Linked DNA regions of Homo sapiens. The protein of the gene in region 1 purifies or fractionates together with the protein of each later gene. This does not show direct contact. Each region holds a gene or a part of one and is shown in the gene's direction. Other genes may lie near its edges.

The links. The genes of interacting proteins can lie anywhere in the genome.
Region 2: the proteins of HRH1 (region 1) and HEATR3 purify together in Homo sapiens (co-immunoprecipitation; one large-scale study listed by IntAct). This does not show direct contact.
Region 3: the proteins of HRH1 (region 1) and SH3GL3 purify together in Homo sapiens (pull-down; one study listed by IntAct). This does not show direct contact.

Annotation. Positions count from the first base shown.
Region 1 is NC_000003.12:11,160,993-11,164,492, forward strand, and holds part of HRH1 (histamine H1 receptor), read left to right. Parts: exon of another isoform or gene 1-776; intron 777-3,500. UniProt on the Homo sapiens protein: G-protein-coupled receptor for histamine, a biogenic amine that functions as an immune modulator and a neurotransmitter.
Region 2 is NC_000016.10:50,086,470-50,089,969, forward strand, and holds part of HEATR3 (HEAT repeat-containing protein 3), read left to right. Parts: intron 1-3,500. UniProt on the Homo sapiens protein: Plays a role in ribosome biogenesis and in nuclear import of the 60S ribosomal protein L5/large ribosomal subunit protein uL18 (RPL5). Required for proper erythrocyte maturation.
Region 3 is NC_000015.10:83,586,841-83,590,340, forward strand, and holds part of SH3GL3 (endophilin-A3), read left to right. Parts: exon of another isoform or gene 1-135; intron 136-142; coding exon 143-246; intron 247-517; exon of another isoform or gene 518-673; intron 674-1,821; coding exon 1,822-1,931; intron 1,932-3,500. UniProt on the Homo sapiens protein: Implicated in endocytosis. May recruit other proteins to membranes with high curvature.

The DNA of each region.
Region 1 (3,500 bases):
GCCTCCAAGTTTGGAGGAGCAAGAGAAGGGAATAAACACTCAATGTCATTCTCCTCCTGCCCTGCCTGTGGCCAAACCCAAGAGAAGGGAATAAACACTAAATGTCATTCTCCTCCTGCCCTGCCTGTGGCCAAACCCAATCAGAAGTGGGTGGACAGCAAGAGAGCCTTTGATGTGGTTCAGGGGCACAGAGCACAGGAGGAGGACCGGAGATCTGTGCCATGCTGGTTTGATGATTGTTTGTATAGGTTGTATTTTAATAGCTAACAGAGGCATCTGCTTTCTCTTCTTTTTTCATTTCTTTCAAACTTTTCCAGGCAATTTTCACTTGGTTTGCTCTTTCAAGAGTGTTCCTTTTATTTACTTGCTAGCTTTTCTTTGTTCCTGGAGAGAATCACTAATCATCATTAAATAAGTACATCCTGCTGCCCCTTGCCCTCGGCCCAGGTGAGGCACAATTCCACCACCAGCCCACACCTGTGGTCTGGAGAGTCTGTGGACGTGATTGTTGATCCCAGGCTCATATGGGAAGCCTGGTTTTCTTTCCTCTGTCCTTGGTGTCTGACTACTTGAGTGGCGGGGCCACCCTGATGAGCCTAACATGGGCCTCTGGTAGGGTCTGCATTCATAACAGAGCGCCTGGCACTTCATGGTGCTCACAAACCTTTGAATGGAACGGCTTTCCAGGCATCTTGAAAGTGGTAAGAAACACTGGGCAAGGATAAGTTATTTTCCCTGTTGTATCAGGAGCTCAATAAATATTTTTCAGTTGTTTATTGATTGATTCTCACAGCAGCGGGTTTCACCAAGCCTTGAAAACCTCCATTAACAAGCCAGGAACTCAAGATGGAGTTTTCTCCCACTGGTCTCTCCTGTAGGGGGCGGTGGGAAGGGCCGATAAATAGCACTCCTCTGCCCAGCCTGAGCTCTGTACCAATCGAGAATGAAGACAAAAGGCAAGACAAGGCAGCTGGAGAACAAAATGTCATGGTTATTACTAATCAGAGTGACAGTGGAGCGTGTGGGCTCGCAAATGCTGAAGGCCAGGATGGGCTGAGTTGCCCACTCAGGTACAGGCAGTGCTGGGCTCTGCAGGAGGTGGCCCCTCCCTGTCCTTCCTGGGAGAGAGTGGAAAGGACGCATGCTCCCTGCAGGCACGCTGGCTCCCAAAAGAAGGGACTGAGTTATACTTACTTACCTATTTCATCTCTCAGATTCACTCATAGATACAGTCACCATGCAAGGAACCAGGGGAGGAGCCATTGAGGAGCTGGGGAGAGCCCTGGGTTATAAGGTGATGATGCTCCCATCGAGTGGCAGGATATATGATGAATGGGCAAGAAGCATTTTCCTCTCCTTGGTGGGGGAGTGCGGGCAAGGGGGTTGGGGCGATCCAGAGGTCCCTAGCACCTGCTATTATCTGGACCAGCAGGGTATGGGAGAAATAGCCCCTGACCTTTCTGACCCTCCTGTCCTGATGACTGATGAAAAGAAGTACTGTCTGTTGAGAAAGCACTCCAGGGCTTTCCATTTGTGATGTCACCCAGTCCTCAACAGCTCTACGAGATGCATATTCATGTGCCCATTTTATAGATGAGACAACTGAGGCTAGAGACATGGAGTAACTTATGCTAGAGTGTAACTGGGGAGACCAGTAACAAGGCTATTGCTGTCATCCAGATGGGAGAGGACAGCCCCTTGGACTGGCAGTGGCCAAGGAGAGAAACAGACAGATTGAGACTGGTGTGGAGTCCATGCTTAGGACTGGACAGGTGGCTATGTGTGGTGAGGCTGAATGAGCTGTTACTAGGAGGCAGGGTTAAAGCAGTGTCTTGGGTAATTTGTGGTTATTCTTGGGTTTTGTTTTGTTTTGTTTTGTTTTTTGTAAAATAGACATGACCCTCCTAGGCAAAGATTATTCAAAGAATTAAGAATTCCACAGGCACCACCACATCTGCACATCTTAGTGGAGCTGAAGCTGCTGCTCACTTGCTCTGAATTGGAAGTGCTAGCTGGAGCATGCTTAGGGGGAATTAAAATGTGCAGACCTGGAAGAGGTCTAGTTGGGAAGGAGATCCTGAGACAGCCTCCCCCACTGCCTTCTTGCCCTTCTGATCACCTTAGAGGTGGTCACTGCTGCATCCTGCTGCACCGCGTGTTTCCCGAGCTCCTCCCCACTGTGCATCACCCCATCCCAGCCTCAACGTAGGCCTCCTCCTCCTTCTGCACACCCAACACAGGCTTCTCTACCTCCAGGCAGCCCCCTTCTATCCCCAGAGGTCCCTTTCCGAGGGACATATCTGACCATTTCACTTTCCTGCTTAAAATCCAGTGACATCCTCTGCAGCCATTAAATAGAAGGAAACCTGAATTTTACCATCTGGAAAGATGTCCCTGATAAATGCATTGGACAAGAGCAAGTGGCAGAATGACCTGGCCAGCCTCAGAAGGCAGGGAACAGTGGTCAAAACATGGGCTTGGAGGCTGCAATGAGTTTGAACCCGAGCTCTACCACTTAGTCACTGTATGACCAGGAGCAAGTTCTGAATTTCTCTGTGCCTCAGCTTCCTCATCTGTGAAATGGGAATGATAATAGTCCTCTCCCCTATAAGGTTGTGAGGCCTCACCCCTATAAGGCTAATATGTCAAATGTGCTAGTCCAGTGCTGCTCCTAGTAGCATCCAATAAACACTAGTTATTACATTAGCATATAAGTACATGTGAACACATATAATCATAGGTCACATCGATGCCTAAGATTATATGTGTTCTCATGTATTTATATACACCTCTCTCTCTCTTTTCACCTCATTCTTCAGGACTCAGAGGTATTCTCTTCCAGGAAGTCTTCCCTGAATACCCCCCACCCCTAAGGCTGGATTAGGATCCTTCTCTGGCCTTACAACACCCCCAGACTCACATCTTCCATACATGTCCTTATTGTCACCATCGGTCCCCCCATGGCTGTGAGCAGCTTGAGGACATAGGCTGTAACTGATTTCCCTCCATATCCCTGGTACCCATCGACGTGCAAGGAACATAGTGCACTCTCTGGAGATACTTGTTGAATGAATGAATGAATGAATGAATGAGTGAGCAGGACTTTGAAACATAAGGGATCAATGGGTAAAGACATGGAGGGAGAACAGCCAGGTATAGGGGATGGCCTGAGCCAAGGCATAGAGGTAGAAAGGGATGCTCCAGAAAGAGCACACGGCCTGGGCTGGCCATGCCTTAGAGAGCGACAGGGAGGTTAACAGGAAGTAATTAAGATGCTCAAGGTGGGTAGGGGCCAAAGGAGTGTTCTGTGTAAAGAAGGGAAAGGAGATGTGATGGGGTGGGCGTGAAGAACGAAGGGAGGGATTGAGGGACAGTGTTGCTTCTTTCATTTAAATCCTTATCCCCCAGGCTGGTTTAGATGCTTCCATGACACTGTGCACTCATCAGGATGTAAAATAAATACCTGGTTTACCTGTTTCTACCGCCAGCCTGGAAACTCC
Region 2 (3,500 bases), on another chromosome or scaffold:
ACAGGAATCATGTATTTATAGTTGCCATGGGGTACAGAGTCAAAACGAGGTATGCAAGCAGCTCCTGGGCTTATAATTTTCTTTTTTGTTAAAATTGTTTGCATCCAGTTATATCAGGCCAGTCAAGGCTGTATCATAAATATCATAAAGGCCTCATTAAGGTATTTGGATAATTCTCAGCCAAGCACGGTGGCTCATGCCTGTAGTCCCAGCACTTTGGGAGGCCGAGGCGGGAGGATCACCTCAGGTCAGGAGTTGGAGACCAGCCTGGCCAACATGATGAAACCGCTCTACTAAAATACAAAACTTTAACTGGGCGTGGTGGTGGAGATGCCTGTAATCCCAGCTACTCGGGAGGCTGAGGCAGGAGAATCGCTTGAACCCAGGAGGTGGGGATTGCAGTGATCTGAGGTTGTGCCATTGCACTCCAGCCTGGGCAACAAGAGCAAAACTCCATCTCAAAATAATAATAATAATAATTGAGTACTATTCTATTATTTTCTTCCCAGTTACAAGCATTTAAGTTTGATTAATATATGTATGTAGTACAGAATTCAAAAGTTATTAGAGGACAGAAACTGGAAAGCCTCCCTCCTTTCTCCGACACCCAGTTCCTCTCCCAGAGTCAAGTTACTGTTGCACCAGTTACTTGTGTATCCTTCCAGAGAGATTCTCCATGTATAAGAGAGCGTGTGTATGCGGGCATGCGTGCGTGTGTGTAAGGCAAATGGTAGAATACCATCCACACAATTCTACACCTTGCCATCATCTAACATGTATCTTTCTTCAAACACCTTTGCATGGTAGGAGCTGATTCTCTTAAGTTACAGGTCTCTGATACGGATTAATTTCATATGCACACAAAGATCTATAGCGATACAAGAGTTAAATTAAATATTCTTTTAAATGACCTAGCTGTAGGTTTCACTTGGAGGGAAAAACAAAAAAAACAAAAACTAGCTGTACAAAGTCCAATGCATGTTCTTCTAACAGATTTTCATAGTTCCTCATAGTAAAATCTTACTTAATTTGACCACATTAAACTATAGGAGCTCAAACCAAACAAAAACAAGAGAGACTGAGAGAGAAGAACAAGTGGTGTTTTCTATACTGAAGGAAAACTCTCCACATTACTCCACCCAGTATCCATTGCTGGAGCGAGGGTAGCCTGGGAGGTGGGAATCTGCCCCTCTCTCTCAGCTGCTGAGGTTCCAGGTGTCTTTCAGGATTTTTTGAGGGTAAACGTGAAGATATTTGCTTTCTACACTGGCAAATAAGATAATTCCATTGTGTTATATTCAGTGTATTCTTCATATATTTTATCCTCCTTTTCAGACACAACATTAAGTCCAAGAATTGAACTCTTAAAAGATCAGGCCAGGCGCGGTGGCTCACACCTGTAATCCCAGCACTTTGGGAGGCCGAGGCGGGTGGATCACCTGAGGTTGGGAGTTCGAGACCAGCCTGGCCAACATAGCGAAACCCTGTCTCTACTAAAAATACAAAAATTAGCCAGGCGTGGTGGCAGGCACCTGTAATCCCAGCTACTCGGGAGGCTGAGGCAGGAGAATCGCTTGAACCCGGGAGGCGGAGGTTGTGGTGAGCCAAGATCGCGCCATTGCACTCCAGCCTGGGCAACAAGAGTGAAACTCCGTTTCAAAAAAAATCAAAAGAGAGTCACTTTTAACTAAATACAAGTTTTTGTGTCAACATCCATTCAAGTGTTGGTCCCCAGTTCTTTAGACATCTGTTTTACATTCCGTCAAGTTCCTAAGAGGTGCTGTGTGTTTAATGGTACATGTTTTTTAAGTTCTAAATTAATCTTTAAAAATTAAGTAATTAAATATTCAGAAACCCATATGTGGTTACTGAGCTGTCTCTGCCACCCTTTCAACATTGATCAGTTAACAGGTGTACCTTTCAAGTACTCCCTGGCTGTGCATTCATTGGCTGGAATGATCCCATGAAAGCTGTGCCCAGCCATGCCCAGGACAGGATATAGTCAGGATATGGGCAGTGCTAGTCCCATTCCCATTCCAGGGCAGGACGGGACAAGCACTGGAGTACAGAGGCAGCTCGTCAGTGTGAGCAGACCAGATGATGGCTGTAGCTTTGTATTTGTCTCCTAGCCTCCTAAACCTGGAAGAGATCTGGATGGTAAACGGGGAGGGGACTTTCCCCAACTTTTGCAAGCATTCTGGCTCCCATCAGCCCAGCAAGATGTCCTGTGGGGTGGGAGTGAGAGGGCTGCTGTTGCTCATGCCCACCCCCACCCATTCCCCTGAGTAGAGGCAGGGGGCAGAGCCAGGCAGGGAGTCCACAGCCAGGGTCCCAGGTGAGCAGGACCCCAAGTCTCTCACTGCTTCCAAGCCCTACCTAAGCTCTAGGTAACCCTGGCAGCCCTGGTTCCACAAGCTGCCATCTCTCAGCTCTGGGCCATTTCTCACTGAGAGTCTGGTCCAGGTACCCCCGGTCCCATCCCCAGGCAGCACACAGAGGTTATTTCACTTGAAACAAACTCCCTGTGTGCCTGTGCTATAGTGAAAGCACTCAGATATGTTTCTCTTGGTTCTGCTGGTTATTTGTGGTCACTGAGGCCAGCACATTTATTAACTGCAAAGATCACAGGAAAACTGCCCCAAGCTGAGTCCTGGAGAAATAATGGAAAGTTTCTGAATTGTGGGAAAATATAACTAAGCACTTTGATTTTAAATAAATTCCCATTTCATGTCTATTCTTGACATCATCTTTTTTTTTTTAAGGTTCAGGAATGTGACATGCTGCTAGGTTAAGAATGCTTTTGTGTATCCTGAGGGTCTTGATGATATTTATGTAGAAATCGCCTACCACACGTTACTGTCACAACAGTAATTTTGAAAATGTATTCACCTAATGACATGTGCTCAGTTACTTCCAGGGATTGGTAGTCTGAATTGGCCTTGCCTATGTAATGGGTTTGGATGGTTACTGCTGGGGGAAGAGGGCCATTACAATACCTCTGGGCTGTCCAGCTTGCTTGGGGCCCATACTCGTATCCCATCTGTGGCCTTCGTATCACCTAATATTGGCATTCGGAGAAATGGAGAATCAAAATGACTTGAAAAGTAGTGTCATTGTTATTTATTTTGGAGTAACAGAATGTTTTCTTATCAGAATGAATTTGATAAAGGATAATCGCTTATATTTGGAGATGATATTCTTTTTTTTTCTTTTATTTGAGATGGAGTCTTACTCTGTTGCCCAGGCTGGAGTACAGTAGCACGATCTTGGCTCACTGCAATTTCTGCCCCCCAAGTTCAAGCAATTCTCCTGTCTCAGCCTCCCAAGTAGCTGGGATTACAGGTGCCTGCCAATGCGCCCAGCTAATTTTTGTATTTTTATAGAGACGGGTTTCACCATGTTGGTCAGGCTGGTCTTGAACTCCTGACCTTGTGATCCACCCGCCTCGACCTCCCAAAGTGCTGGGATTACAGGCATGAGCCACCGTGCCCGTCCTAGAG
Region 3 (3,500 bases), on another chromosome or scaffold:
CTCCTACATGAAATTAAATGAAATGGACCAAGGCAGACACTGGTCTTCCCTGCAAAGCTAGGTCTTTGCTGCTGGTCTCCTCTCTCTCTGGACATTACACAGGCTCGGGCCTCCATGGAATAATTTTGCACTTCTGCTGCAGGTAGAACAAGTCAGCCAGTTGGCTGTGTTCATAGAGGCAGCATTAGACTATCACAGACAGTCCACAGAGATTCTGCAGGAGCTGCAGAGCAAGCTACAGATGCGGTAAGCACCTCCACGTTTCTTACAAGCCAAGGGCTGCGGAGGTAACATCTATTGAAATCCATCTGTCTGTCTCTCCATCTCTCCATCTCCCCCTTCCCCTGCCTCATTCTGTTTTGAATTTTCTTTCACTGGCTTTCATGGTTGGATGTGGGATGGGACTGAGATAATAAGTACTGGCTTTGGCCAGTAGGATAGAACTGGGAAAAGGGACCTGGCAGCTTTTCTCCTTTTTCTTTTCATTAAATCCCTTTTTTTTGTGACCCGTGTTTAGGGCAACTAACCAAGTTGCTCTCCCACCTGGGACATCAACCCCTACAGAACTACCCTGGCTTCATTGCTGATTTGATGAGAGTTTAACTCCCCATTCACAAAGGGATGGAAAACATCCAGAGCTATGGAAAAAAGTGAGATGCTGTATGGAAAATATGTAAATATCTGTAAAAAAAAAAAAAAAAAAAAAAGGTAGTGCCTTCACTTCACCAGTACGAATTTCAGGATATGTTCATAATATTGACTAGTATTGAAAGAGTCAAAATATTGACAAATTTCAGGCTGTGTTCATAATATTGACAGGTATTGAAAGAGTCAAAAATATCTTCTGAACAATCAAAGAAAGGTTTCTGCATTCCTTGTGAATTTAATCATAGATGTAGTCTATACTTTTCTGAAAATTAGTAATATTATATATAGTCTGCATGGCAACCCTGTTTATTAAAATATTTTAAATTAGGTTTGATAACAGAAAATTGTTTTACACAGGATTATGGTAATGCATAAATTTGGAGGGATTTTTACTTAAATCAATGACGTAGTTACCTAGGGAAGACAAAGATGTGTTCAGTCCCTGAAGCATCCACTTCTGCAGGCAGATAGTTTACCTGTTACTGACAGGAGTGTATTTTCATAATTCTATCATAATCTATAAGAGTAGAGTGAGGGAGAAGGCAGCTCCCATCACTGGGTGCCGACCGCGTCCCAGGCACTTGCTGGATGCCTCAGAGACTTGATGAAGAAAATTAGTCTTTTGTTTTGTTTTGTTTTGTTTTGAGATGGAGTCGTGCTCTGTTGCCCAGGCTGGAGTGCAGTGGCGCCATCTTGGCTCACCGTAACCTCTGCTCACTGCAGCCTCCACCTTCCAGTTTCAAGAGATTCTCCTGCCTAAGCCTCCCGAGTAGCTGGGATTACAGGCGCCCACCACCATGCCTGGCTAATTTTTGTATTTTTCGTAGAGATGGGGTTTCACCATGTTGGCCAGGCTGATCTCGAACTCCTGACCTCAGGTGAGCACCTTGGCCTCCCAAAGTGCTGGGATTACAGGCATGAGCCACCATGGCTGGCCCAATTAGTCTTCTTCAAGATGAATTTCACTCACAAGCTCAAATAGGGAGTTGAAAAACTGCATTTGTGATATCACCTCCATCACTTCGGGCTACTCAAGAGTCAGTGTGTAAAAATCGTCCCTTTCATGACCACTGGCTGTAACCTAAGTTCCTGTGCTCAACAAGGCAGAGAGGATGTGTGTTTGGAAAGCTTTCAACATCAGATGTCTGGCTCATCTTACGATGTGTGTTACAGAATATCAGCTGCATCCAGTGTCCCCAGACGAGAATACAAGCCAAGGCCTGTGAAAAGGAGTTCTAGTGAGCTCAATGGAGTTTCCACCACCTCTGTAGTGAAGACGACAGGTAAGTTGACCATTCTAATATGCTAAGTGTGCCTTTAGTAAAGCACTTCTAGAAACACTTATTTACTGCTTGTTTCTGGGTCAGTGAATACACACAGACCCTGGATATCTTTCTTTGGTTGTTTGGTAAATTCCCTTTTCCCCTAAACGTGCCCCTTTTTTCTGTTCCCTGGGGAAGAATTCTATCACTTATATAATGTAGCATTTAGAACCTTGGCCATAGAACCATTATGGCTACATCATCCTTTATTTTTTTAACTCTTTGAAAATATTTTCTTAATTTATTTTTAAGTTGAAATTAGCATTTTTGAGCAACTGCTATATGCTAGATACTATCTTAAGTGCTGCATCGTTATTTTTTATTAAACAAGTGATGCAAATGTGTCTTTTAGTAAAATAATCAAACAGAAAAAAATTGGTAAAATAATCAAACAGAAAAAAAAATTTAATGGTATAAGTCATTCTATAGTCTCTTGTGATCACCTACACCATCGCAGTTCGCTTCCTAGATGTAGCCACTGTTAAAAAAATTTGGTATAACTATTATCATATCTATTGAGGTACATAAATATACACATAAACAGCGTTTTGGATTTTTTTCTGTTTTTTCTTTTTTTCTTTTTTGAGACAAAGTCTTGCTCTGTCACCCAGGCTGTAGTGCAATGGCATGAACATGGCTCGGTGCAGCCTTGACCTCCTGGGCTCAAGCAATCCTCCTGCCTCAGCCTTCCATGTAGCTGGAACTACAGGTGTATGTGACCCTGCCAGGCAAATTTTTTTATTTTTTGTAGAGACAAGGTCTTACTTTGTTGCCCAGGCTGGCCTGCAACTCCTGGGCTCAAGCAATCCTTCTGCCTCGGCCTTCTGAAGTGCTGGGATTATAGGCATGAGCCACTGTACCCAGCCTTTTTTCTGTTTTTTAAATGCGAGATTATACTAGGCATATTGTTTGGCAGTTTGCTTTTTAAAATGTATCACTGTTTCTTCGAGTTATTTCCATATCATGCATATAGATCTATCCCACTGTTTTAACAGCTTCATAGTTTTCTATTATACCATTTCCCTATTGGTGGACGTTAAGGTTTTTTCCAGTTATTTGCTACAGTGAGTATCCTTTATCACTGTGCTGGCTACATTACTATTAAAGCATGAACACCTGCTTCCCCACACCCATGCCAGTAGACTTCCATTTCTGCCAAGCACTCATGAGAAAAAAATGGTATCCAGTCTTAATTTGCATTTTCATGATTATTAGTGAGGGTGAACTTTCTTTTCTATATTTTAATTTGTATTTCCTTATGTCTGAATTGTCTGTTTATGTCATTTATTTGTGTTTTTTGGGAGTAGTTTGCTTTGTCTTATTGTTTTATAGGAGCTCTTTCCATATGAGGATATTAATAATTTTTTTCCTAGTTTGTCATTTATCTTTAAACTTTGTTTTTGGAGTGCCTTGTCCCTTTGTTGTTTTTGCTGTTGTTTGCTTTGTTTAGTTTTGCTTTGAGTATACAGAAGCTTTTATTTTGATGTAGTCAAATGTGTCTGTCTTTTGCTTGTGACTTTACATTTTGTG